Linked DNA regions of Homo sapiens. The protein of the gene in region 1 interacts with the protein of each later gene in a biochemical or structural test. Each region holds a gene or a part of one and is shown in the gene's direction. Other genes may lie near its edges. The genes, in order: PLG, ENO1, MARVELD2 and F3.

What was found.
Region 2: the proteins of PLG (region 1) and ENO1 form a complex in vitro, tested with the Homo sapiens proteins (one study listed by BioGRID).
Region 3: the proteins of PLG (region 1) and MARVELD2 interact in a biophysical measurement, tested with the Homo sapiens proteins (one study listed by IntAct).
Region 4: the proteins of PLG (region 1) and F3 form a complex in vitro, tested with the Homo sapiens proteins (one study listed by BioGRID).

Annotation. Positions count from the first base shown.
Region 1 is NC_000006.12:160,733,231-160,740,253, forward strand, and holds part of PLG (plasminogen isoform 1 precursor), read left to right. Parts: intron 1-764; coding exon 765-858; intron 859-3,656; coding exon 3,657-3,777; intron 3,778-5,307; coding exon 5,308-5,382; intron 5,383-5,837; coding exon 5,838-5,978; intron 5,979-7,023. UniProt on the Homo sapiens protein: Plasmin dissolves the fibrin of blood clots and acts as a proteolytic factor in a variety of other processes including embryonic development, tissue remodeling, tumor invasion, and inflammation. In ovulation, weakens the walls of the Graafian follicle.
Region 2 is NC_000001.11:8,875,685-8,882,915, reverse strand, and holds the start of ENO1 (alpha-enolase), read left to right. Parts: upstream 1-4,229; 5' UTR 4,230-4,336; intron 4,337-7,231. UniProt on the Homo sapiens protein: Glycolytic enzyme the catalyzes the conversion of 2-phosphoglycerate to phosphoenolpyruvate. In addition to glycolysis, involved in various processes such as growth control, hypoxia tolerance and allergic responses.
Region 3 is NC_000005.10:69,410,279-69,418,116, forward strand, and holds the start of MARVELD2 (MARVEL domain-containing protein 2), read left to right. Parts: upstream 1-4,837; 5' UTR 4,838-4,892; exon of another isoform or gene 4,893-5,446; intron 5,447-7,838. Other genes in the region: cell cycle checkpoint protein RAD17, read left to right, coding at 215-272, 3,753-4,014. UniProt on the Homo sapiens protein: Plays a role in the formation of tricellular tight junctions and of epithelial barriers.
Region 4 is NC_000001.11:94,531,743-94,538,765, reverse strand, and holds part of F3 (tissue factor isoform 1 precursor), read left to right. Parts: intron 1-2,601; coding exon 2,602-2,801; intron 2,802-5,497; coding exon 5,498-5,676; intron 5,677-6,285; coding exon 6,286-6,445; intron 6,446-7,023. UniProt on the Homo sapiens protein: Initiates blood coagulation by forming a complex with circulating factor VII or VIIa. The [TF:VIIa] complex activates factors IX or X by specific limited proteolysis.

The DNA of each region.
Region 1 (7,023 bases):
CCCCATAGAGGGCGCACAATGCATGGAAATAAATGTTTCTGAATCAACAGCAAACAGGCTTCATCGGGTAGGAGAGCGCTGAGCCCTCCAGGGACAATGCACATCAATGATGTCCCACTGTCCTTTGGTGCTGGGGCTCTAAGGCCTCCACTGGGTCAGGCTCCTGAAGGGAGACCCATTCTCCAAAGACCCCCGAGGGTCACCACTCCCTGTCCAGGGGTGTGGCCTCATAGCTCCTTTTGAACAGGGGCACAGGAAGGACGGCTTTAGAGCATTCAAAAAATAACTTTGCCAAAATAATAATAATAATAATAGAAAGGAAGAAGAGGCTGAGCATGGTGGCTCACACCTGTAATCCCTACACTTTGGGAGGCTGAGACAAGCAGATCACCTGAGGTCAGGAGTTCGAGACTAGCCTGGCCAAAATGGTGAAACCTCATCTCTACTGAAAATAGAAAAAAAAATTAGCCAGGTGTGGTGGCGTGCACCTGCAGTTGCAGCTACTCAGGAGGCTGAAGCAGGAGAATCGCTTGAACCCAGGAGATGGAGGTTGCAGTGAGCTGAGATCATGCCACTGCACTCCAGCCTGGGCGACAAGAGCAAAACTCCACCTCAGAAAAAAAAAAAAAAAAAAAAAAGAAGGAAGGAAAAAGAAACACTCCTTTATGTCTTCTAAGGATAGACATGAAATGCGTGAGCCTTGGAACACCTTCTCCCTCTCCTGCCCCACGTGAGCTGGAGCTTACATGCCTTCTTGTTTTCAGTACTGCCGTAACCCTGATGGTGATGTAGGTGGTCCCTGGTGCTACACGACAAATCCAAGAAAACTTTACGACTACTGTGATGTCCCTCAGTGTGGTAGGTTGCCTTCTTTTTGGTAAGGAAACTGCTTACTTAATATGGATTTGCAACAAAAAAGGAAAAGGGCTTCTGAGCAGACTGCTTCTGGGGAGGAGATAGCTGCCCTCTCCATCAGACCCCACTCTTCATCATGGGCATCTTGAATCTGCCCTACTATTGGCCACATTTGTTAGAGGAACACCTGCCCATCGCCCCAGGCACACATAAATAAAATAAATGTAAAATTCCCAAAGAGCAAGCTTAGAGGTAATCTAGTCAGCCCCAGGATGGTCCCACTGAATGCTGCCATGTCTAGCGTGGGATGCATGAAAAATTTAGAGTCATTCGGATGAAAAACTTTCCCTTTCCACAGCTGAGAAGTAAGAAAGAAAATACAAACAGCAGGAAACAGGTAAGCATGTAACGCACATTGTAAACCTCAGATGGCCATCCTAGGAATTCAATGAAAGGTAGTGCAGCTCTTTAGCCCCAGATGGCCTTTCTTATAAGTTTACTACTCACAAGTCACATTAGTGACATAGCTTAGAGACTGCTTGTTGGGTTCCATCCTCATTGCTCTGAGACTCTTGTTGGGAGTATGAGGCTTGGATCAGGGGAAGGGGAGTTGACATTAGTTCTTAAAGAATTGGAATAACAAATCCATGGGTATTTCTGAAAAAAAAAAAAAAAAAAAGAAAGGAAGCTACTTGGAATTGTCCCATATTTAACATTCTGCTGACCAATCAATTTGTCCTAGTTACAGAAAACCACCCTGGACTTCTCCTATGCATAATTTGGTTGCTTGTGGTTGGGTCTGCCATGTGGAGGGACCTTGAGCTGGGGGAAGGAGCTTGGCCTCCAAGTCCACTGAAGACCAGCATCCTGAGATTGCCTGGGAAGGTGGTACAGGGCAGTGATGAAGATCATGGGAGCCACACTGCCCAGCTTCGCATTTGGGCTTCTCCTAGGGACACCAAGAGGGAGGAAGGAGGGGTTAGGATGGTATGAAAGATTCTACTTGGCCAATATTATTGTAATGCGGCATTGTGATCTCTGGATTTAGCATGAGTTGATAGCTGACTTTTTCTGCAGAAGCATCTTGGTGGCACCTCTAACTCAAAGTCCCTCGATGGAGTCAGTTCCAGTTCTCCACTTCTGGCCCCATCTGGTACACACCACTGCCTCTCACTGCCCGGGCTCTCTATCCTTGACAGGCTGCCTTGAAGTTGAGCCCAGACTGATTTTCTTGCCTCAGACCCCACTACCGTGCCTGGGACTCATGCACCTTTGACTCCCATGGAAGGGAAGTGCAGTAGTTTCCCAGGTGCAATTCTGGTGTCCTCACCCACATTGAGGATGTACAAGAATCAGGTTCTTAGAGATTGGAGAAAGAAGGAAGAATGGGAACAAGATTTTTCCCAAAGGACTGTGAGGTCCCCCACCTAACCTTGATGTGAGACAAGTGAGGTTAACCCCAAGCCTGGTGAGAAGCGTTCCCATCAGACACTTGGAAATCCTGAGGACTGTTTCATGCAGAAGGATATGGTTTATTCAGGTTTGACTCGTGCTTGAGAAAGCTAGAGCCTCTGGTGGTGAATGATTTTAATAACTATTTCCTTTCCACCAACATATACAGTACAAATAATAATAAGCAAAAATAAATAGAAACATTCAGTTTTGTTTTGAATAGTAGGAGCAGGGTACCATCATTTCTGTAGTTACTCTTTTAGTACAACGATGCATGTCTACTGTATGTAAGGCATACTAGCAGAAATTGAGCTCAGCACTAGAGAAGATGATTGCATTCTATGCCTTGCTTCTTTTTTTAAAAAAAGGCTTCCATAGATAGATTCTCAGAACAGCCCATGGCAAATGTAAAGTTATTTGGAAAACCCAGGTTCCAGATTCACTAGAGCATAGAATCTCTGGTTGGTTGGGAAGGAATTTCCTCTTACAGTTGTTACTAATAATTGTATGAACAATTATTTAAAATATTAACATTTACATTTGTGAAGACCTTGAAGGGCTGGAGACAACAGAGAAGCATTTTTGAATACCCTCTGCAGCCCCTGCACTGTTGTAGGCATTGGTGGATGGTACCAAAGATGGGACACTGTCCCTACCTCCAGAGACCCTGTGGGCTGGCTACAGAGAGAAGGCAGGGAGGAGGAAAAGAAGAATAAAGTCATATGTTTAAGTCACCCCCACGGCCGTTGGTTAGTCATGGGAGGCTCCCCAGAGGAGCTGTCCTGAAGCTGGCTGACAGAAGGCAACATTTCAACTTAGGACAGTAATCCTTGCTACATACAATCACATACACACACACACACACGTGCACACACAGAGACTCACATGGAAAAATAAACCTTTGTGCCTTTCAGCAGTGATGACAATTATGGTTTTCAGTAAACTTTACATGGTTTAGATGGTGATGGTGATGATGATGATTATGGGAAGGATGGCATCATGTTCTAAACATACTGCATGGAGTCAGAATAACAATGACAAATAACCATTTGTCCCAATCAAGGTTTTCTCAGAAAATATCTCATTCTGATGCTAAACTATACCAGTCTGTTTGATCACTTCTCCAACAAAATAATTACAAAGTGCTTATATTTTCTTGAAAAGAGAGGGTCCTGTGTTGTCTACTACCACTTTTGAAACTTAGAGAAAATGTTCCAAAAGATGATGATTTTACTATTTAGTTCGGCCTTTAAGATGTCAAAAACTCAGTGCTTGGAATTTGTCTCGAATTACACCACAAAATTGCTACCTTGTCTCAAATGGGATTTCTTTCCCACCTTGTGCCACAGCGGCCCCTTCATTTGATTGTGGGAAGCCTCAAGTGGAGCCGAAGAAATGTCCTGGAAGGGTTGTAGGGGGGTGTGTGGCCCACCCACATTCCTGGCCCTGGCAAGTCAGTCTTAGAACAAGGTAAGAACAGGCCCAGAAACGATTTATACTGTCCCTCCACGTAAGCCCTGCAAAACCCTTCTACATTTACATAAAATCCACACAGCTGAGGCATCAGCACCTGCCTCTAAGTTTTCTGAAGGAGGAAAAAAGCTACAAAAATTAATATATGTATATATACATATATATTTTTATAGGTTCTCTACTGTGAAAATGACAAAAATTGCTGTCTTTTTCTTGATCTGGGCAGCTCCATCAAAATCTGTAGGCACAGTGATTTGCACCAAGTTCCAATATTGCTGGAAAATACTGAAGATGCTCTGAGGATTTCTATGGATATCCATTGTCTCATTGTCAGATGAAAAGAGGGGGAAGTTTTTAGAAATGTGACACTTTCTGGGTTGGGAGAGCAAGGACAAAATTATCTCCAGTCTATCACAGGCACAGATTCTTTTTCTTTGGACACTTTCGTGAATCATTGAATTCAATGCAGAGGCTACTCATCCATTCGCAAACAAAAAAATTCTAGGTCATGATCCCCATAAATGAAGAGTGATCAGTCCAATCCCAGGGAACCTGGACATTTTGGGTATTGTTTCAGTGGAACATGCCTTTCATAAGTTCCATTTTCTTGGGTATCTCTTAGGAAGCAAGCATAGGAAACAGGCCCATCCGTCTGCCTGTTTTGCTTCCTCATCTCACTTCTACACGAGGGTGCCTGTGCTCAATTGCTGTTTTCCCCTAAAGAGACTCTTTTCCATAAGTTTGTGAAATGCCATCGACAAACCTGATCGCATTGCATTTCACTCTGCTGTTGAGTCGATTTTTCTTTATTTTATCATTTAGTAACTCCTTGCTCTACAGAGCTTTCACCTTCCACATATTTCAGATTCATTCTTTCCTAAACTATGTGGTGGTCTACGTCCTCACTGACTTATCAACATGCTACCATCATGCACTTCCTATCTCTATTCCTCTTCTTTAAATTTGGTTCCAAATGGCTCACACCATTATTCTGAGCTATTACCTGCCTACGCAGTCCTAGAAAGTAAGTGATTCAGGAAACATTCCCCAAAAGTAAAGTTTCTCAGGTAAGATCAGAAGACTCCCATGAGTCACTGCTGCTCAGGATCACATCTGGCTCCTTGAAGAGTGATTCATCAGACCTTACATAGATCTTGTCATAAAAATGAAAGAGGCCTCGGGGGAAGGTCTTGGGCTGGTGGCTTCTGTTGGAGTCCTGGGCTGTGGGGTGAAAGCCGTGGCTGTAGAGCTTCATGCGGAGTTACTTAGCTTTGCTCTCCTGTGGACAGGCCATGCCTGTGCCTCCCCCAAGCATCGGAAAAATTGGCATAGATGGGCCCTTCTCAAAAATCCCACTCCTGGAGCACTGGCCAAAATTACTACCATCCTGATGCTGGGCTTGCAGTCCTTTCCTTTGGGAATATGAACATGGTCAAAATTAAGTGAACGTGTCTTTCTGGCTTTCTGTACAATGGAGCAGAACAAAGTATCAATTTAACTAAAATTTGAACTAAATCCTCTTTCCAGGTTTGGAATGCACTTCTGTGGAGGCACCTTGATATCCCCAGAGTGGGTGTTGACTGCTGCCCACTGCTTGGAGAAGTATGTTTAGGGGACAATTGACATGAAGTCTTGTCTTAAATACTTTTTCTGTCCTTCTTTTCCTCCTTTCCTCCTTTCCTTTCTCACTCTTCCTCCCTTCCTTCTCTGGCTGTGACACTAGGGACCAGGCCAGGGCAATTGGATAAGAGAGAAGGGAAGGGTTTCTAGAAAGAAACTGCAGAGGAAAGACACAGTACAGATGATTTTGTGGGCCTGAATAAACTGCAGAACAGAGCTGTTCACTACCATAGGCTGTATCAGTCTCTGCCCAAACAGCCCAAGAACATTCCTTAACTGCCTGTTTCAAGCAAATCATGAATTTTGCTTCTTGCCACTCAGAAGTCACTAATTCTGAGTGGCCAAGGGTGTCAGGGAGACAGCACCAATTTCATGGCACAGAGGTTACCTGAAGGGGCTGGACCATATTTTCCTCTTGACGTCCTCATCTTTTCTAGGTCCCCAAGGCCTTCATCCTACAAGGTCATCCTGGGTGCACACCAAGAAGTGAATCTCGAACCGCATGTTCAGGAAATAGAAGTGTCTAGGCTGTTCTTGGAGCCCACACGAAAAGATATTGCCTTGCTAAAGCTAAGCAGGTACTCGTTCACCTGTGGTCTTCACCCCACGCTGGTGAAGATATTTGCTTTATGTCTGGGTTTTATGGGCCATGGCCACTGCATGGCAGTGGGGAGGAACTGTCTATCACATGAAAGGCTCAAGGGCTTTGGGGACAGCATCAATCTTCAACCCTAGCCCTGCCACATGCTAGCTGTGCTCTTGAGAAAGGCAGCAGGACTCCGTTTTCTCATGTGGAAAAAGAGTTGAAATGAGGTACTCTGTTACTCCTAGAACTCACTTAATGTTCACCAGTTCATACACATTCATGATCAGAGAACGATTCAGTTATTCCAGGCTGACAATTCCCCCTTCATCATAATATGTTTAAGAGAATCATATAAGACTATATTTGTTTCAAAGCACTTTAAAAACCACAAGATCGAGTTGGGTGTCTGGTGTGGGTGCCTGTAATCCCAGCTACTTGGGAGGCTGAGGCAGGAGGGTCACTTGAGTCCCGGAGTTTGAGGCTGCAGTGAGTTATGATCGTGTCACTGCATTCCAGCCTGGGCGACAGAGTAAGACACTGTACCAAAAAAAAAAACACCAAAAAAACAAAAAACAAACAAAAAAAAAACAACTTCACAATGTCAAAAAAATCACAAATACAGTTTATAAATGTAAATTATATTATTATTATTGTCTTCTTTGATTTGATTTTCTCTTTCCTGTTGAAATGTTGTTTCACTAAGCCTGACAAAGTGAAACATTTGCTTATGTCACTCATTTAGTGCTGTTTGGAGCCAGATACTAGTTGAGTCAGCTAAGAAACAGCTATTTGTAGGAGAAGCAGGTTTGGGACAGGTGACAAGGCACGCAGGGCGCTCGCTGTGCTGGTGGTTCTGGAAGACAGGGTGTCAGTGTGGACAGGGATGAGCATGGCCTGGATGAGAAGGCACGGGGCAGGAGCCTGAGCTGCTCTCCTGGGCCTGGCCACAAGCCCAGGGCAGCTTCTCTGGGTCTGTGAACTGAGGGGTGATGTCCTGGGATGCTCTGACACTCTAGAAGGAGAGAAGAGCCTTTCCA
Region 2 (7,231 bases), on another chromosome or scaffold:
TACTCAGGAGGCTGAGGCAGGAGGATCGCTTGAATCCAGGAGGCAGAGGTTGCAGTGAGTCGAGATCGCATCAGTGCACTCCAGCCTGGGCAAAAAAAAATGAGACTCCTTCTAAAAATAAAAAAAAAAAAATCATTTTAAAAAGCAAGGGAATAGACCAGGTGCGGTGGCTCACACTTGTAATCCCAGCACTTTGGGAGGCTGAAGCAGGTGGATCACGAGGTCAGGAGATCGAGACCATTCTGGCTAACATGGTGAAACCCCATCTCTACCAAAAATACAAAAAATTAGCTGGGTGTGGTGGCGGGCACCTCTAGTCCCAGCTACTCGGGAGGCTGAGGCAAGAGAATGGTGTGAACCGGAGAGGCGGAACTTAAAGTGAGCTGAGATCAGCCACTGCACTCCAGCCTGTGCGACAGAGTGAGACTCCGTCTCAAAAAAAAAAAAAAAAAAAAAAAAAAGCAAGGGAATAATAAAACACAAAATTTAGAATAGTGGCTACCTCTGGGGTCAAAGAACATACAGGGGACCTAAATGACATTACTAATGTTCCATTTCTTTTTTTTATTTTTTTGAGAAGGAATCTTGCTCTGTCGCCCGGCTGGAGTGTAATGGCACACTCTTGGCTCATTGCAACCTCCGCCTCCCGGGTTCAAATGATTCTCCTGCCTCAGCCTCCCGAGCAGCTGGGAGTACAGGCATGTACCACCACACCCGGCTAATCTTTGTATTTTTGGTAGAGATGGGGTTTCACCATGTTGGCCAGGCTGGTCTTGAACTCCTGACCTCAGGTCATCCACCCGCCTTAACCTCCCAAAGTGCTGGGATTACAGGCATGAGCCACCGCACCCGGCCTCCATTTCTTTTTTCTTTTTTTTTTTTAACTTTCCATTTCTTTTCTTTTTTTAACTCTTGTTGCCCAGGCTGGAGTGCAATGGCATGATCTTGGCTCACTGCAACCTCTGCCTCTTGGGTTCAAGCAATTCTCTTGCCTTAGCCTCCTGAGTAGCTGGGATTACAGGCATGTGCCACCACACCTGGCTAATTTTTTGTATTTTTAGTCGAGATGGGGTTTCACCATGTTGGCCAGGCTGGTCTCAAACTCCTGACCTCAGGTGATCCACCCCCCTCAGCCTCCCAAAGTGATGGGATTATAGGGGTGAGCCACCATGTCCGGCCCCATTTCTTCCTTTGAGACAGGTCTTTATCTCCCAGGCTGGAGTGCACTGGTACAATCATAGCTCATTGTAATCTTAACCTCCTGGGCTCAAGTGACACTCCCACCCGAGTCTCCCAAGCAGCTGGGATAGGACTACAGGCATGTGCCACATCTGCCTAATTTTTTAGTTTTTACAGAGACTGGGGTCTCCTCCATGTTGCCCAGGCTGTTCTGCTGTTCTGGAACTCCTGGGCTCAAGCAATCCTCCTGCCTCAGCCTCCCTAAGTGCTGGGAGTACTGATGTGAGCCACTAAGCCTGGACTCTAGGGTTCCATTTCTTTCTTTCTTTCTTTTTTTTTTTTTTTTTTTTTGGAGACGGTGTCTCGCTCTGTCATCCAGGCTGGAGTGCAGTGGCGTGATCTCGGCTCACTGCAAGCTCCGCCTCCCGGGTTCAAGTGGTTCTCCTGCCTCAGCCTCCTGAGTAACTGGGACTACAGGCGCCTGCCACCAAGCCCAGCTGATTTTTATATTTTTAGTAGAGACGGGGTTTCACCATGTTGGTCAGGCTAGTCTTGGAACTCCTGACCTCGTCATCCGCCCGCCTCGGCCTCCCAAAGTGCTGGGATGACAGGCGTGAGCCACCGCGCCCAGCATGGTGTTCCATTTCTTAAGCGGGATGTGGGTACACAGAGATTTATATACGCTTTATGTAGTCTCTGGTGTACGTGAAATACTGAGTGATGAATACCAAAACCTCATGATCTGTTATGAGGAGGGACCATCCAGCTACATCCCCTTCTGCACTCATCTGGTATCTTACCTCCCCAGAGCTCCTTATCCAACCCTGAAGTTCCCTATCTGGCTGGAGACCCTCTTTCACAAAGATCCCTTTCTCAAGCTGACCAGTGATTTTTACACACGTATCACAGGGAGAATCAGTAATCCAAGCGAGTTACAGGTCGTAGCAGATTCACTCTCCCTTGATCCCGGCCACCTGCAGACACCATGCATGTGTTACCTACAGTGCTTCAAGGTGTGGTATTCTGATAGCTTTGGACAGTTATTCCCCACCTGCCCACCACCAATAAAACTTCTCAACAAGCTTACAGCAAGTGAGAAATAATAACTAAATGCAATGCCGTTGTGCTGACTACAAGCAAATGTGAACCCCACAGCCTGCTAACAAAGCCTAAGGAGCTATGGAAACAGGGAGGGCATTTGGCAGCCTGTGAATTTTGAAAAAGATTTCAGGACATCTCTAGTAATCATTAACATTTTAGCTACAATGTGAGGTCGAAGTGCTGGCTCAGAATGTGGCGCTGCAGCCTCCAAGAATCTTGCAACGGCAGCAGTCCGGGATCATGTTCGGCCTCTGATTTCCTGCTAGATTTACTGGTTCTGGCCACAGCAGAGTATCTTTATCTCTCTAACCATTTTTATGTAAAATAAGATTGTTTGGAGCCCTTTCAGGGCCACGCCTTAGAATTGCTCTGAGAGTACCAAGTGCCTGATTTCTTAGAGTCCTTACCAGTAGGAGATGTTGGCTGTTGATTTAGCTGCTGAGTCATGGGGCTGGGGATAGTGGTTTTCAGTAGCCAAAAACGTTAGTGTGTTGCTGGTGAAATCACAAACTCTGCTTGCAAAATTTTACTCTTTTTTTTTTTCTTTTTGCTGAATTTAATCCTAAAGTTCTTGCTTCTTACTCACTGGAAAGCAAATACTATGGTCTCAATAGGCCTTAATTTTTAACCAACGCCATGGAAACCTGTCTGTAGCTAAGAGGATAAAAATGCTAGGGGTTAAGGAAGAAAAGCAGGTTTTGCAGCTGACCAGAAGAAATAATTAAATTCAAGTACATATTTGAACACCTCTTTACAAGGAAATGAGGAAAATCAGATGTTTTAGTTCTCTTACAGACCAGCAGTAATGTTGAAAAATATAAAAGTAGCCGTAACAGAAAACGAAGTGATCATCTCAGCCCTCCCTTGGAGTGGGGGGATATATTGCGGAGCTGAGTTTTAATGGCTATCAGTTCTTGATCAGAAAAGTGAAATCACTCCAACTCCTTCCGTATTCCACGGAATATGACCCGTCTTGAACTTTGAGAAATTCCCCGGGTCTGTGTGAAATTCCAGTTCCAAATAATTCACATGAATGGTTCACAAGAATCCAGGTAGGTTTGATCTAGTTCCCTAGATGGGAATGAGAGGGATGTAAAATTTGAGAGGCAACATGACATGGACTAGAGAGAGAATGAATTAACACTGGGGAAGCACGTGGGGGCGCGCCGGACACCTAGAAGGCACTCAAAAAGTATGAGGTAGAATTAAAGGAAAGTGAACCTTCCTTTGGCTGTCTCGGCCTGATTCTCACCGCAGCAAGGAGAAAGGGACAGGGTCACCTTGGCGGGTGCCAGGCGGAGCCCGGCCAGACGGGCGCGGCTGGAGGGCAGCGCGCAGGCGCAGGCGGCGCACGTGGCCCCGGACACGCAGCGCTGCGGCGGGGCCAGCGCCCCAACCCCGGAGTGGGGCCGAGGCGCGCAGCCTCTCAACGACTCGACGCCAACGGGGTCTCTCGGATCGCGGCGCGAGGCAGGAGGGGCGGGGCAGGAGGGCCGCGGCAGGCCCGGGCCGCCAAAGTTGTCAGCAAGGTCGAGGGCCGGACGTGGGGCCCCAGAGCGACGCTGAGTGCGTGCGGGACTCGGAGTACGTGACGGAGCCCCGAGCTCTCATGCCCGCCACGCCGCCCCGGGCCATCCCCCGGAGCCCCGGCTCCGCACACCCCAGTTCGGCTCACCGGTCCTATCTGGGGCCAGAGTTTCGCCCGCACCACTACAGGGCCGCTGGGGAGTCGGGGCCCCCCAGATCTGCCCGCCTCAAGTCCGCGGGACGTCACCCCCCTTTCCACGCTACTGCAGCCGTCGCAGTCCCACCCCTTTCCGGGAGGTGAGGGAATGAGTGACGGCTCTCCCGACGAATGGCGAGGCGGAGCTGAGGGGGCGTGCCCCGGAGGCGGGAAGTGGGTGGGGCTCGCCTTAGCTAGGCAGGAAGTCGGCGCGGGCGGCGCGGACAGTATCTGTGGGTACCCGGAGCACGGAGATCTCGCCGGCTTTACGTTCACCTCGGTGTCTGCAGCACCCTCCGCTTCCTCTCCTAGGCGACGAGACCCAGTGGCTAGGTAATGATTGGGGAAGGGCTGAGCAACGGGCAGGCGGCGCAGGGCTTTTCTGGGCTTGTGGGGCTCTTTTCCCTCCGAGGGAGGCGGCGCGCCCGCAGGCCCAGCGTGGCGGGGTCGGGGGCACGTGCAAGCCGCCTCCCTGGGTGGGAACTGGCGCCCCCGCTCACCCCGAGGCCCGGGGCGGGGGCGCAATGCCAGGCGCACGTGCTGGGCCCCCGATTTCTTTGGAGGGGAAAGTGCAGATCAACACGTGATTACCGACTGCGGGGCCGAGTCACTGTCAGGGAAGGTCGGGAGCTGCACACGCGAGCTGCTTAGCACAGCGGGAGTTGGGAGTGGAAGTTGCTTTTCCATCGTAGCCAAGTGTAAGGTTTTTGGGATAGACGCAGACTTAGCGGCGGTGGCCACTCAGGCCAGGCCCTTCCTAAAATGGAGGAGGGCGGCGATAGTGGAGATGGCCACGAGGCTGCGGCCCCCTCCCCCACCGGTAGCCCCCGCCTCTCGCCCGCGCTCGCGGCCCGCGCTTCTGCCTAGTAAGCGGTGACTCATTTAACTCCGAGAAGGCACCTCTTGAGGAACCTACAGCAGAGCCGTTAGATCATTGGCAAGTCCTCCAGGCGACCTCGCCCAAGTTGGGCAAGAGCGGCTCCCCGGCTGGCCACCAAAAATCGGGCCTGATCTGATTTGGTTTTTTTTTTTTTTTGAGTTTTGCTATTGTTGCCCAGGCTGGAGTGCAATTGCGCGATCTCGGATCTCGGTTCACCGCAACCTCGGCCTCCTGGGTTCAAGCGATTCTCCTACCTCAGCCTCCCGAGTAGCTGGGATTACAGGCATGCGCCACCACGCCCGGCTAATTTTGTTTTTTTTTTGTTGTTGTTGTTGTTTTAGTAGAGGCGGTGTTTCACCATGTTGGCCAGGCTGGTCTTGAGCTCCCGACCTCAGGTGATCCGCCCGCCTCGGCCTCCCAAAGTGCTGGGATTACAGGCGTGAGCCACCGCGCTAGGCCAAGAAGGATGTATTTTAAGAAAGCTTCCTGTTCAATGTTCCCCTGCTCTGTGCGCTTCTCTGGGCGGTAGGGTCCATTGCTTCACTTGCCTTTCAGGCCCACCCGGGCCCTGACTGCTCCATTCATTTACCGTGTCCCTAATTCGGGGTTCCATCCAGGCAGCTAAAAAAGCTGTGAATGGTCCGGGCGCGGTGGCTCACGCCTGTAATCCGAGCACTTTGGGATGCCGAGGTGGGCCTCCTCAGGATCACCTGAGGTCGGGAGTTAGAGACCAGCCTGACCAACGTGGTGAAACCCCGTCTCTACTGAAAATACAAAAATCGACCAGGCGCGGTGGCTCACGCCTGTAATCCTAGCACTTTGGGAGGCCGAGGTGGGTGGCTCACGAGGTCAGGAGATCGAGACCATCCTACTCTACTAAACCCCATCTCTACTAAAAATACAAAAAATTAGCCGGGTGTGGTGGTGGGCGCCTGTAGTCCCAGCTACTCTGGAGGCGGAGCCTGCAGTGAGTCGAGATCGTGTCACTGCACTCTAGCCTGGGCGAAAGAGCGCGACTCCGTCTCAAAAAAAAAAAAAAATCACCTGGGCGTAATGGCAGGCGCCTGTAATCCCACCTACTCGGGAGGCTGAGACAGGAGGCTGAGGTTGCAGTGAGCCAAAATGGCGCCATTGCACTCCAGTCTGGGCGACAACAGCGAAACTCCGTCTCAAAAAATAAAAAAAAAATCACACTTTATTTTCACATCCTAAGACGTTTGTCTTTTTTTTTTTTTCTGAGACGGAGTCTCTCTGTCGCCCAGGCTGGAGTGTAGTGGCGCGATCTCGACTCACTGCAAGCTCCACCTCCCGGGTTCACACCATTCTTCTGCCTCAGCCTCCTCTCCTGACCTCGTGATCCACCCTCCTCGGCCTCCCAAAGTGCTGGGATTACAGGCGTGAGCCACCGCGCCCGGCCAAGACTTTCTTTCGTCTTAAGTCACTAAAATGAAAACAAAAGTACTGAGGCACCCTAATAAAATTGCCTTTAAAAGTATGACTGAAATACTCAAAGTATACCACAGTGGTGGCCTGGAGATGGGGCAGGGGGATATTGACTGGAAATGGCCTGAGATAACTTTTTGCAGTGATGGAAATGTTACTCGGGTATATAATTTGCCAAAACGCAAAATTAAATCTAAAAATATGTTTAAACAAATTTGCCTTTTTGGAACCTAGTAAAAAGTAAGTACCTTTTTTTGGCTAATGAATAAAACTCCATTGTTACATAGACAACAAAGCCACAGAAGTGACTTCAGTAAATAATTTTGAAAGTTAAAAACCTGCCACTTGCCACCTCAGGACATTCCAGAGAAGATGTTGGAGGGGAGCCCAGGTAGATAATGGCTTTAAACACTAAGTTCCTCTCACCCACCTCAGTTCTATAAGTTGTTCAGTTAGTTTCTTTGGAGAGCGCCAAGGAAAAAAGTAAGAATGGGTTTTTCTTTGAGGAATTGGTATTTGTTGTTCATTGCTGGAAATTCTTGTATTTTTTTTTTTAAGGTGGTGTTAAAGGAAGCCCCTTCCCTTGAAGTATCCTGGTGTTCAAAGAATCTTTCCTCTATTTACAAATTATAAAACCCCGTTGGGAAGAAATAATTAGATGTCATTATTGGCTGGTCCTGGTGGCTTACCCCTATAATCATCCTAGCATGCTTTGGGAGGCCAAGGCAGGGGAGGATCGCTTGAGCCCAGGAGTTTGAGAGCAGCCTGGGCAGCATAGTGAGACCGCCATCTCTTAAAAAAGTAACTAAAATAAAATAAAGATGTTATCATTAATGACATAACAACACTGAAGACCCAAGTACTGTGAAATTGGAAAGTCCCAGGAAGTGGCAGTAGCCAAGATC
Region 3 (7,838 bases), on another chromosome or scaffold:
CAAGGGTTCCAGCTTCTCCACATCCTTACCCACACTTCTTGTTTTCTGGTTTTTTGTAACAGTCATCCTAATAGATGTGAATTGGTATCTCACTATGGCTTGGATTTGCATTTCTCTAAAGATTAGTGATGTTCAGCATCTTTTCAGGTGCTTATTGGCCATTTGTATATTTTCTTTGGAAAATTGTTTACAACTTTTAAAAAATCTGTTTCAGCTCAGATTTCTTTTATCCAAGATATTGGAAGGCTCCCTCTGAAGCGACACTTTGGAAGGTAAGCTGATCATCTCAATTTCCAAAAAGCTGATAATGAAATGTCTACTGAATATGTTCAGTATGAATCAATAACTGTTACCTGTAACATCCAAGAAAGACATACTGTACCTAGTAATTTATAAACATAATTGTATTGTAGACCCTTCCTTTTCTTAAATATAACAGCATATCTTCACCCACTCCCAATGGACTATACCAGATTAAATGGAAGCATGGAATCACAAAGGCAGAGGAATCTTTAAAATCCTCCAACTCAACAAATCTAGAAACCCCTTGCCAGCTTTCCTGTTGAGAGATGTTCTTAGCCTATGCTTGAAGACCTGCAGTGACTAGGAACTGCCTCAGAAAGTAGAAGAGTCCTTCATATTTTCTTATTTTAGAAAATTTAAACAAGCAAAAAATAGATGTCTGTCTATATATATATATATATATATATATATATATACTGTTCATTTTATTGGAAAGTAGCTTCTGTGCCATTATCAGTGATTAACACAAAACTTATATTTCAGTTTGACTTAGCTTATTTGTAAGATCGAATTAAGCACTTAGGAATTGTTTAAAGATTTTAAAAATGGCCGGGCGTGGTGGCTTATGCTTGTAATCCCAGCACTTTGGGAGCCCGAGGCAGGTGGATCACCTGAGATAAGGAGTTCAAGACCAGCCTGGACAACATGGTGAAACCGTGTCTCTACTAAAAATACAAAATTTAGCTGGGTGTGGTGGCACATGCCTGTAATCCCAGCTACTCAGGAGGCTGAGGCAGGAGAATCGCTTCAACCCAGGAGGTGGAGGTTGCAGTGAGCCAAGATCACACCATTGCACCCCAGCCTGGGCAACAAAAGCAAAACTCCATCTCAAAAAAAAGATTTAAAAAAATCTTGCTTACTGAATGCATGGACAAAAGTAAGTGATAGAAATGGCACCTCTGACTCCTCCTACCTTTTCTCCTATTTCTGGTCCCAAATGGAAAACTCCTGTGATGTGAGCTTTTTCCCCCTCTTTACCCTCCAAGATTCATTAAGGCCTTTGTAGTGTTAATGTTTTTTTCTGTATACTGGCTTAGCTATGTGGGGCCCATCTTTCCTATCGCAGAAAGACCATGATGGATGGATCTTGAAGCATCGTCCCACTGGGATGTGATCAGGGCTTACACATTTCATAAACACTGCTTTTCTTCTCACATCCCTCTGAATGAAAGCAGGACCAAGTCTCTTTGATGGCTTCTCTCCCCAACCCCCTAAGATTATGGCATCAAAATAAAGACAAGTATGTTCTATTGTATTTTTGCTCCTGAGATGTATTGAGTTGCTGCAATTTACACAAGGCTAAATTGAATGAGAATCTTCACTATTTTATTATTGGTTCAACTACCTACTTGATGTGACTTGAGAGGCAGTATTTTCTTTTCTTTTTTTTTTGTAGACGGAGTCTAGCTTTATCGCCCAGGCTGGAGTGCAGTAGCACGATCTCGGCTCACTGCAAGCTCCACCTTCTGGGCTCACACCATTCTCCTGCCTCAGCCTGCCGAGTAGCTGGGACTACAGGCGCCCGCCACCACGCCCAGCTAATTTTTTGTATTTTTAGTAGAGACAGGGTTTCACTGTGTTAGCCAGGATGGTCTTGATCTCCTGACCTCGTGATCCGCCCACTTCGGCCTCCCAAAGTGCTGGGATTACAGGCGTGAGCCACCACGCCTGGCCACGAGAGGCAGTATTTTCAGTGCTATATATTACAATGACTGGTACTATCTTTTATTTATGTTGACCATATTTAAAACCATTGTTCATATGTTTAGTATTTAGTATTAAATATTAATACTTAATATTTAATAGGTGTTTAATTTCCTGTAATTCAACCTACACGTTATTTTTGCCCATTTAGCTTTTTTTCAGCTTTTACTATCCCAGCCTTATAGATAAGTCATCATGCACTTCAAATACTATTTACTTAGGGTGAATTCCTACAAATGAAATTGCTGGATCAATAGGTATATACCTTTTGGGGCTTTTCCTCTTTATTGCCAAATTGTTGGCAAGAATATTTTGCCAGTTTTGTATCCACTTACAGTGTATCAGTATGTTCTTTTCTCCTAACCCTTGCCACCACTGGGTTTTAAAAGTATCTTTGCCAGTTTAGAAGATGACAGTAATAGGCCAGGCGCAGTGGCTCATGCTTGTAATCCCAGCACTTTGGGAGGCTGAGGTGGGTGGATCATCTAAGGTCAGGAGTTCGAGACCAGCCTGGCCAACATGGTGAAACCCTATCTCTGCTAAAAATACAAAAACTAGCTGGGTGTGGTGGTGCCCGCGTGTAATCCCTGCTACTCCAGAGGCTGAGACAGGAGAATCGCTTGAACCTGAAGTGGAGGTTGCAGTGAGCCAAGATCGTGCTACTGCCCTGTAGCCTGGGTGACAGAGCAAGACTGTCTCAAAAAAAAAAAAAGATGACAGTAGTAGCTCATTATGTTAATTTTCATTTTTAAAATTACAAATTAGATTTAACAATTTAGGAACCATTTGTATTTGTTTTATAAGTTGTCCATGTTTGTGCCCATTTTTCTATTTCATTTTTTCCTTTTTAATTTGTAAAAATTCTTTACTGAAGGCTGGGTGTGGTGGCTCACACTTGTAATCCCCGCACTTTGGGAGGCGGAGGCAGATGGATCACCTGAGTTCGGGAGTTCAAGATTACCCTGGCCAACATGGTGAAACCCCATCTCTACTAAAAATACAAATTAGTTGGGCATGATGGCATGTGCCTGTAATCCCAGCTACTTGGGAGGCTGAGGCAGGAGAATCGCTTGAACCTGGGAGGCAGAGGTTGCAGTAAACTGAGATTGCACCACTGCACTCCTGCCTGGGCGATAGAGAAAGACAGTCTCAATGAAAAAAAAGAAAAAAGAAAAATTCTTTACTGAAGACATTATTTCTTTTTATTTTTAGGTGTTTTTGTTGTTGTGGTTTGGTTTGGTTTTTTTGTTTGTTTGTTTTTTGTTTGGAGACAGAGTCTTGCTCTGTCGTACAGGCTGGAGTTCAGTGGCACGAGCTTGGCTCACTGCAGCTTCTGCCTCCTGGGTTCAAACAATTCTCCTGCCTCAGCCTCCTGAGTAGCTGGGATTACAGATGCGTGCCACCACGCCTGGCTAATTTTTCTATTTTCAATAGAGATGGGTTTTTGCCATGTTGGCCAGGCTGGTCTTGAACTCCTGGCCTCAAGTGATCTGCCTGCCTTGGCCTCCCACAGTGCAGATAGTACAGGCATGAGCCATCGTGTTCAGCTCCTTTTTGTATTTTAAGTTGTAGGAACTTATTCAGTTTGTCATTTACCTTGTAGTTTTGTTTTTATAGTTAAAGGGACTAGCTAAACAGCACAATGTAGGTAAATGAAAGATGGCTTCATAATCATCACACTCATGGTGTAATTTAAAAATCTTCTCCTTTGGTTCTTATTAATGCCTGCACTGTGAATCTGACAGATTGAAAATGGAAGCCCTGACTGACAGGGAACATGGAATGATAGACCCTGACAGCGGAGATGAAGCCCAGCTTAATGGAGGACATTCTGCAGAGGAATCTCTGGGTGAACCCACTCAAGCCACTGTGCCGGAAACCTGGTCTCTTCCTTTGAGTCAGAATAGTGCCAGTGAACTGCCTGCTAGCCAGCCCCAGCCCTTTTCAGCCCAAGGAGACATGGAAGAAAACATAATAATAGAAGACTACGAGAGTGATGGGACATAGAAGCCAGCCTGCTAATCAGATTGCTACTTCACAGCTTCATTTTTGTTTCATTCAGTGGTACTTCAGCAGAGTTAATATGCTTTTCTGATGAATTACACAACAGTTTGTTAATTCTTCATTCTTGTAGTATTTCATCACAAGAAACCTACTCTTCTGTCATCTTGAAGTAAATAGAAGATCAAGCCTTCAAATCTCTTAATTTTTTCGGTATTTATTAAATCTGTGAGTGGTTTAAGGAGCGGTCAGTGTGTATAAAGTGTGTTTGAACATTATGCCAAATATCAAGATGTGAAGGACTAATTCAGGATGCAAAAACGTTATTGGGGGGTTGTAAATATCAACTATTCAACAGTTTAGGATGCAATTACGAGTGTAAACTGTGTGCCTTATTTACACTTTATTGTCTCCCGCTTCTCAGATAGTTTTGATGTGTTGTACAGTGGAATATCTTAGATACTTTTTGGAAAGTATTTACATAAGTTATATCACAATTAAAATGTTGAATTTAATTTTGTTTCTCCTGTCTTTTAACATTATCTAGCACGCACTCGCTGCCATGGGTCCTTAAGCACAGTGCACCAATCTCCCTCCCCCAGTGTCAAACTTTTCAAAAGATAGGGAAGAGGATGGCAACGTTGCGATGAGAACTGTAAACTCTTTCCAAAAGAGCCCAGTGTGTGGTCATTGCCGCGACGTGCCGGCTGGTGGCACCGAGCAGCCTGGGCCCAGAGCGGTTGTCGGGCCGACAGATCCGGGCGGGGCAAAGCCGGGCGGGGAAAGCTGGGCTCGTCCCGTCCCGGCCCCGCCCCCACCCCGGGAGCCCGATACCGGTTTCAGAGTCCTGGGCAGCGTGCGCGCTCTTCCTGGCGGCTGCGCAGGTAAGTGGGACCGGGGTGGGGCCACGTGACCGGGAGAGGAGGGCCCGGCGGCCCCCGGCCCAGGTGTGCTGCGACGGACGGCTGCCCGCGCTCGGCGCTCAGCCTGCCATAGCCCGCGGGGGAGGCCGGAGCCAGGGATCCGGGGAGGCCCGCGTCCCGCCAGGTTTCGCTCTGCGGACGCAGGTGCGGCCGAGCCGCCGTCCTTCCGGGCGCGGGGCGGGGCGCGCACCTCGGGGCGATCTCGGTGCTCCTTACCTGGGAGGTCTCCCGGCTTAGTTTCGGCCTCGTTGGGTCGGAATCTCCAAAGACAGTGGGTTTCAGCCAGAAACGCGAAGACGAACGCCTAGCCGGCGCGGGCAGAACCGAGGACACAATGAGATTTGTGGGACCGGGCGCCCAGAGGCTGGCGCGGGGGAGACCCCACAGCTAAAATGCTCGGTACCCCCGGGCAGTCGTGGGTTAGTTAGAACCGCAGAGCCTTTCCCGACCCCTCGGAAGCGCAGAAGTATCCGAAATCTACCCGTTTCTTGGGTCCAGCAAAACTTTTAAGCCAGGTAAACCGGTGGTTCTGTTTGTGTAAAGGTGACCAGGCATGATTCCTGTGACACTTTGCTGGGGCAGCCATTTCTCCTGCCATTGCCGCGGCTTTCCAAGATGAGTGTCCAAGAGTGGAGTAAGGGTCCGGGGCCTGAGCAGGACAAAGACACACGCTGCCGCGACCTGCGGGACCAGAACGAACTCTCAGTGACATCTTGAAAGACATTAGGGGTATCCAGATATTTAAGATGTAATGAAATACAGCTAACCATTCCCTTCTAAAAATCACATTATCTTGCTTTTCCACAACTCTTTAATAATTGCTTGTTTTTTCTTTAAAAATGGATAGGGTGGTTTGATTCAAATAAGCCACTTCACAGGTGAAGAGTTAAATCCATTACAGTGAATCGTATTTTTACCAGTGAGTTGAATTAAGCATAGCGTATCCTGTAAATGCTGTGTAAAACTTGCTAAAATCATTTGTTGTGCTTTTGCTTCTACATTTCTTAGGAATGTGTTTCAAAAACTAGAGTCGTAATAGCATTTCTAGAACTTACACTTTTTTAGAGAAAGAAAGAGAAAGGTACAAAAATAACTGATTGTTATAATATACAGAGCCGCTTTGCATTGGGCACCCTGCTGGGGCCATCACAGTTAATCCTCTAAGGTCGGAGTGCCCTATTAGAAGACCCTGGGTTTCCACCGCATTCCCTTGTCTCCAGTCTGTACATACCCTGTGTGCCTTGCTTGCCCTCTTAACGTCTCTACCTGGATTTTTAACGCATCTGAAACACTCTTCAGTCTGCTGCTCCCCAAGGCTAAGCTGGAGGGGTGGAGAATGAGGTATAGATAGATAAAATGATCAGATGTCTGGGGTTTACTTCAGAGGACTCTATTGGCAGAGGAAATAGTATGGGGAGTATAAATGAAACAAGTTTGGCCATAAATCGATAAGTGTAGAAGCTGGATGTGGGTACACAAGGGTTCATAATGCTATTCTTTCTACTTTTTATTATGTTTGAAAAATTCTATAATAAAAATTTTAAATACCTGTCTAGCATTTGACCTCTTCTCAAGATCTCAGTGATCCATTGGATTATTTCAATGGCCTAGCCAGTCTTCCTGTTTTACCTCTTGCCTTCTGGAGTGTACTCTCAACACAGCATCCATAGTGATACTGTTAAAACAAGTCAAGTCATGTCACTCCTCTATTCAGAATCCTCCAGTGGCTTCTCATCTCACTCCTAGCAAAAGACAAAGTCCTTTCTTTCCAGTGGTTTTCAAGGCCCTACATGATTCAGATGGCCTCAGTTCTACTATTCACCTTCTTACCCACTTTGCTGCTGCCACAGTAGCTTCCATGCCTAAATATTTCTTGAACATACCAGGCACTCCTGCTTCAGGGCATTTGCGCTAGCTATTCCATCTGCCTGAACACTTGTCCCTGATAATGGCCTGGCTTCCTCCTTCACCTTCAGTTCTATACTCAGATATCCCTTTCTCTGTGAAGATTTCCCTGCCCACTCGGTTTAAGATGGTAACATCCTGTCCCCATTGCAGTCTTTACCCCCTTTCTCAACTTTGTTCTTTAGCATACTGTATATTTCATTTATCTATCATCTGTCAATCTGCCCGGCACTCCCCCGGTTAAAGCATCATGAAGGCAAGGATTTCAGTCTGGTTTGTCCACCAGTATACTTTCAGCATGCCTGGTGCAAGGCAGGTTAAATGAAGGGTCTTCGTTTTCCAAAGTAAAATAAAATAAAGCCTTAGGAATTTCCAAATTGTTCAACAGTATAAAGATGGGGTTATCAGACCAGGTGCAGTGGCTAACGCTTGTAATCCCAGCACTTTGGGTGGCCAAGGCAGGAGGATCGCTTGAGCCCAGGAGTTCAAGACCAGCCTAGGCAACATAGTGATACTTAATGTCTACTAAAAATTTTAAAGAATTAGCGGCCGAGCGTGGTGGCTCACACCTGTAATCCCAGCACTTTGGGAGGCCGAGGCGGGTGGATTATGAGGTCAGGAGATCAAGATCATCCCGGCTAACATGGTCCCCATCTCTACTAAAAATACAAAAAATTAGCCGGGCGTGGTGGCGAGCACCTGTAGTCCCAGCTACTTGGGAGGCTGAGGCAGGAGAATGGCATGAACCTGGGAGGCGGAGCTTGCAGTGAGCCGAGATGGCACCACTGCACTCCAGCCTGGGCAACAGATTGAGACTCTGTCTCAAAAAAAAAAAAAAAAAGAATTAGCTGGGTATGGTGGCATGCACCTGTAGTCCCAGCTACTCAGGAGGCTGAGGCAGCTGGAGTGCTTGAGCCAGGGAGATTGAGGCTGCAGTGAGCTATGATTGTGCTCCTATGCTCTGGCCTGGGAAACAGAGTGAGACCCTGTCTTAAAAATATT
Region 4 (7,023 bases), on another chromosome or scaffold:
ACCCCAGGAATAAATGAGATTCCTGGTTAAAAAGGACCAGAGCAGTCATTTTACAGTTGAGGAAACTGTTGCTCTGAGAAGTGAGGGATTTATTCATGACTACACTGATGGTGAGTGCCCATGTCAGGTCTGGAACCAAAGTCTACCCAGTATCCACACACCACCATCCCTCAGGTGGCTCTGCCACAGTCTGATGGGAGGCTCCAAAGCGGGAGGAAGAAGGAAAGTCTTGCCCACTGCATCTCCTCAGTTGGCCTTCCTCTCTGCCTGTTTTCCCTCCCTACAGTTAGCATCTTAAGCAGCTGCCCCTCTTCCCTCCCGACTGCTCTCACTACTGCAGCCTGGCTCCAGCCGCAGGACACTACTGCTGTGCAGAAGCCCCTACTTGGAACTCCAACTGCATTTTTCACCTTTGCTAACAGTTTTCAGTGGTGGTTGGGAAATGTTATTGGCTTAAGCCTTAGCACAAACCGTCACCGGTGATATTCATTCCATGGAAATGTTCTGAATTCTAAAGCTGAATTTACAAAGCTTCTGGAAAACAACCTGCAACCAAATTAGTGACTGAATTTTTTAGTTAACTCAAAATTCCAAATCAGAGGGTTTTGCAATGCCTGGAGGAACCTTGGAGGCTTTTAAAGTGTTAATGCTATTAATGGCATTCAGAGGGATTTTCTACAGAATTGTCCCTTCATTACCTGTTTATACAGTTTTACTACTTACCAGGGTACTGTATAAATCCTTGTGCTAAATTTTGCTATAGAGTATGTGGTCCCTGCTGTGAGCTGGGAGGAACCAAATACTGTATCTCTATGTTACATAGAAAGCCCTAGGAGACTTTCTCCTGTTATCTGAACAACTATTTGCTGTACTGATAAAAAGGAAACAGCATAGTCTCATTCACTTTTTGAAATGGAAATGATAAAATAAAACACATTTTGGTCATTCGGGAACAAAATACCCTCTCTACTTTTATCACATAAAATTAAATAAATAGAAACCAAAATATTTCAGTATCAATCTTAGTTTGTGCACTTTAGGATAAAGAATGTGTTTACCCAAATCCTTTTGGCCTGGTTACTTAGTTCAGATTTTGAAAGAAAATATATTTGTGGCTTTTATGTGTGAATTTAGACAATGGAATCCATGTGGTGCCTCGTTTTCCCTGAGATTATGTATTAATTCAACCTGTAAATGCAAACCATCTAATAGTCAGCGAGACCCTATAGCCCTGCTGCTTAATGGGGGCACACAAGGGCATGCAGCCCTCGTACCAGGCAGACTGTGTTCATATTAACAGCATCGTGGAGAAACTCATGCTGGGGGACAGGGGAGGGAGATGTAAATGCTCAGCAGGGAGATCTGGAGATTCCTGGAGCAGGTGGAGTTGGGACCTGGCCTTGAACGATGGGTCTGGCTCTGGCAGTCAGTAATGCCAAAGGGAAGAGCAGCATAACTGTCACTTTCCATGGGACAGAAGTGTGTGAATCAAGTTGCAGTGACGCTTCACCTATTTATTATTTTGGTCATTTAGAAGAATTTCATTGTCAGTAGAAGTCCTTTAAATCATTTCCCCTTCAGTGACGTCTCACAAAAGAAAGATCTGTCTTTAGCTTTTTAGTCTCAGACTTTATTAGACAGATACTACCTGTACTCTTATTCTGTAATCTTTGTTGGGATGGATTCACATCTTGCAAAGGAAGGGAGGCATGTAGTATAATGGGGCAAACAGACCCAGCTCTGCCACTCGTTAGATATGTGACCTTCTGCAAGTTGCTTAGTGCCTGTGAGCTTCAGTGTCCTCATGGATAAGAAAGATCCAACACCTTCTTGGAAGGATTATATCAAATGAAGTAACATGAGTAAAGGGTCCAGCAGAATACCTGGCATATAGTGGAGTCAATGAATGATTAATAATATTATTAATAGTGGTCATGAGAGAATATATGTATAACATGTTATTATGTAGACTCACTATATAGACTCTATTCTACATAGAATATAGAACATTATATAACAAACAACTATAATAAGTAGACTATAGTAAACAACCTCACTTTGTCTCAGTTGCCTCATCTTGATGGAAAACTGCTCTTTCTCTCCTGTTACCCTGACAGAGAGCGTCTACATTCTAAAAGAAAGATATTTAACAAAATGGTTGAGTACAGATCCAAGAGTCAAATAGCTGTCTGGTTCAAAGTCCAGCTGTGTGATTTTGAGCTAGTCACCCAATCTCACTTTGTCTCAGTAGCCTTATTTGTAAAAACAAGGCAAATTACAGAGCCATCCCCTGGGTTGCTATGAGGACTCAAACATGCATCCCAAGTGCTCGGTGTTGCTAGGTATGATGGCTCACACCTGTACATTCAGCACTTTGGGAGGCCGAAGCAGAAGGATCAGCCTGGGCAACATAGCAGGACCCCATCTCTACAAAACAATGTTTAAAAAAAAGCAAAGTGCTCAGCACAGTGACTGCATCATTAGGATTGATTGTAGGGCTCCTGATGTTAGCACAGAACACCACAGCCAGGAAGCAGTCTATCTTGTTGGGTGCAAATTGTAACATTCCATTTATGTTTCTTCCTTCTTTTCTTTCTTTAGCACTAAGTCAGGAGATTGGAAAAGCAAATGCTTTTACACAACAGACACAGAGTGTGACCTCACCGACGAGATTGTGAAGGATGTGAAGCAGACGTACTTGGCACGGGTCTTCTCCTACCCGGCAGGGAATGTGGAGAGCACCGGTTCTGCTGGGGAGCCTCTGTATGAGAACTCCCCAGAGTTCACACCTTACCTGGAGAGTAAGTGGCTTGGGCTGTAATACCGTTCATTCTTGTTAGAAACGTCTGAACATTCTCGTGATCTTGTGCCTTTAGGGGCTACAAAATTAAAAATATTTATTCTTTTTTTCTCAGAAACTGGTATGTATCACAGCCCTCTTCACACATTCCAGATGTGGTAGGAGGTTCACAGAATGTGAACTTTGGAGCTGATGACAGTGTCATCAAGTAACTTTCTCCCCCAGTCTGTCCCCAGACCCTGTTACTGTCCTCAGTAACCGGCTGAATGTGTGTTGGGAGAGGGCGGGCCAGGGAAGCGGGTAGGGATAGGAAATCCACCAAGGCCGGGGTTTTAGCTTTTCCCTATATATATATCATGTATCCTGATTTTTCTGTCCCGTTATCACACTAAAAATCCCAGTTGAGGATTTTTCCCAAACGGTCATAAATCAATGAGGAAAGTCCATGGTTTCCCTCTGAGCCCATAATTAGCCTAATTATGCTGACCTTTTCTAATCAGTTGGCCATGATTTGAGTTCCGTGATGTGCCAGCACCTGCCCAGCCATCTGCCTGTCACCCTCGTTCTGGTTTTGGAAAGGTGGAATACTTTCCTCCTCAGCCTTTGCCCCTGTAAGCTGGCCCTAGGAGCCAGTAAAAGAATGAAGAGAATTCCTGTCAAGTAGGAGATTTATTCTTTTGCCGCAACTGTGGCTCTGAGCTAGGCAATTTAGATAAATGCATGTAGCACATTGAGTAGAGTGAAATTAGCTTCTCTTGTAAGGCCAGCTGGTTAGAATGAAGGTGTTGTGTGAGTGTTAGGCCCAGCGAGAGAGAACAGTTTCTCAAGGTAGGAATGGTGAAAAGAAGGGGTGGACGGACAACCAACCAACCATCCTCCTCTGGTATCTACTTTGAGGGTTGAAATAGGGGGCCTGACCCCAGGTGAATGTGGCTGCCTTCCCAGAGCCCCCATTTGCAAGACCCTCCAGACCCCCAGGTGCTTCTGCTTGTGTCTTTTGTGGCACCAGGCAAGAATGTAGCAGCGTCAGCAGCCCCTCTGGTGACTGTGGCATGGTTGACATTCATTTCCCCCCTAATTAATGGCATCCTCATGATTCTCTTTTATATTAATAGTTCTTGAGTTTTTTTGTAAGCTACTTCAAATCCTTTGTTGGTGCAAGATAGAAGATATTTTATGTGTTTGTTTTGCATGTGCACACACATATTTGGCCTGTGAATTGATGTTTGTTTTCCTGTCATTTAACCAAAGCACATGAGATAATTGAGCCATTGCAGAGACCCCGTGGTTAAATCCGGCTTCTCGAGGTACCAAGGACATTTCCTGGGCTTTCTCACAGCCCTACATATTTTTGAACCTAAAATATCGTAGTTTATGCTACCACCCTGTTCAGTATAGTAGCCACTAGCCACATGTGGCTGTTGACCACTTGAAATATGGCTAATGCTCTAAGTATAAAGTACACACTGGAATTTAAGAAGTGTAGAATATCTCAAAACTTTTTTATATTGATTACACATTAAAATGATTATATTCCAGATATATGCAGTTGACTCAAGCAATGCATGGCTGAGAGGCACCGACTCCCTGTGCAGTTGAAAATCCGAGTATAACTTGACTCCCCAAAAACTTAACTACTAATAGCCTACCTATCGGTTGACTGTTGACTGCAGCCTTACCAATAAGATAAACAGTCAATTAACACACATTTTTCATGTTGCGTGTATTATATACTGTATTCTTACAATAAAGTAAGCTAGAGGAAAGAAAATGTTATTAAGAAAATTATAAGGAAAAGAGGCTGGGCATGGTGGCTCGTGCCTGTAATCTCAGAACTTTGGGATGCTAAGGCGGGTGGATCACTTGAGGTCAGGAGTTCAAGACCAGCCTGGCCAACATGGTGAAACCCCATCTCTACTAAAAATACAAAAATTAGCCAGGCGTGGTTGTGGGTGCCTGTAATCCCAGCTACTTGGGAGGCTGAGGCAGGAGAATCACTTCAACCCAGGTGGAGGAGGTTGCAGTGAACTGAGATTGCGCCACTGCACTCCGGCCTGGGTGACAGAGCGAGACTCTGTCTAAAAAAGAAAGGGAAAGAAAGAAAAAAAAGAAAAGAAAAGAAAAGAAAGAAGGAAGGAAGAGAAAGAATTATAAGGAAGAGAAAATATATTTACTATTGATAAAGTGGAAGTGGATCATCATAAAGGTGTTCATCCTCGTCATCTTCATGTTGAGTAGGCTGAGGAGGAGGAGGAGGAGGAAGAGCAGGGGCCACGGCAGGAGAAAAGATGGAGGAAGTAGGAGGCGGCACACTTGGTGTAACTTTTATTTAAAAAAATTTGCATACAAGTGGATCCACAGAGTTCAAACCCATGTTGTTCAGGGGTCAACTGTCTTTGGTTAAATAAAATATATTATTAAAATTAATTTCACCTGTTCCTTTTTACTTTTTCTAATGTGACTACTAGAAAACTTAAAATGACATCTGAGGCTCCATTGTCTTCCCCTTGGGCCAGCACTACCACAGAATGTCTTAGGATTCAGCTCCAGGCCGCCACGCCTGCTTCTTTCAGGGAGCTGGTTCTATGCACATGTTTTATATGAGAGATAATTAAGTTGTCAATTGTGATAACAAAACAGGATTTGACTTTGTACAGAATTCTTTGGTTCCAACCAAGCTCATTTCCTTTGTTTCAGCAAACCTCGGACAGCCAACAATTCAGAGTTTTGAACAGGTGGGAACAAAAGTGAATGTGACCGTAGAAGATGAACGGACTTTAGTCAGAAGGAACAACACTTTCCTAAGCCTCCGGGATGTTTTTGGCAAGGACTTAATTTATACACTTTATTATTGGAAATCTTCAAGTTCAGGAAAGGTGAGCATTTTTTAATTTGTTTTTATGACCTGTTTTAAATTGTGAATACTTGGGTTTTACAACCCATTTCTTCCCCAATTCAAAAATAGCAGAACAGAGTTGTTGAGAAGGTGATGGAGTAGAAGGGGGAGCGCGCACTGTGGGGAGGGGTGGACAACAGGCCTGGTCCTACCTGTGACTCTGCACTACCCTGTGACTCTGGGCAGGGCCCCCTCGGAGACCCAGGTTCCTCAGCCAACCGGCTGGATCAGGTCATCTCTAAAGGTCCCGCCATGCTCACATTTCTCCCTCTATTGAGGATCCCAGGCACAAAATTTGTTTTTGGTTCAATGCATAATACTCCCTTCCTTTTTCTTTTACTGCAGATATCTTCTAAAGGGGCTCAATAGGGTTCAATATGCCTAAATTGGATCTTCTCAGTCTTGGAAAAGGCATTTTTAGCAGTGATCAAGGGAAACTGATTAGCGAAGTCACTTCTAATCCTTCACGTGTCAGCTGTGTTCTTGTAGGCTTTGCTTAGAACCTAGGTTTTTACTTCCACAGTGACTTAATAAAGGGGAAAGAATTGACTCAGAGCCCAGATGAATTAAGAACTCTATCTTTTTACAGAAAACAGCCAAAACAAACACTAATGAGTTTTTGATTGATGTGGATAAAGGAGAAAACTACTGTTTCAGTGTTCAAGCAGTGATTCCCTCCCGAACAGTTAACCGGAAGAGTACAGACAGCCCGGTAGAGTGTATGGGCCAGGAGAAAGGGGAATTCAGAGGTGAGTGGCTCTGCCAGCCATTTGCCTGGGGGTATGGGTGCTGTGGGTGACTTCTGGAGGAGTAGCTCCACCCTCAGGGCTGGGATATACTTCCTTGGTTAAATATTCAGGAAAACAAACTGCCTGGAGGTTTTTTGTTGTTATTTGTTTGTTTTGGTTTTGATTTTGCTTTGGTACAAAAAAGATTTTGGACATTTAGAAATGTTTCTGTGTTGATTGTGCCCTTGTATTAGCAGGTGTTTTCTTGAGCACCTGTCATGTGCTAAGCCCTCTGCTGAGCACTGGATACACAAACTGTGTTTAGGATTTAGCAACAAGTCACAGATTTCCCTGGGCATTTTTTCATGCTTAAATTCTAATTCTGGGGGTGGCTTCTGGACCAGCTGCAGCAGGACACAGTAGACATTCGTGAGTACCCACTGTGGGCTGTTGCCACAGAGGCTGTAGAGTCTAACCCATCAAGGGAAGGGATTGAGTATATCAAATATACCCACATGCATGCATGTGTGTATATGGCGGACACGTGTGTGTACATGCATGTGCATATGTTGGGAGCTCAGGCCCATTGTGCGAGGAAC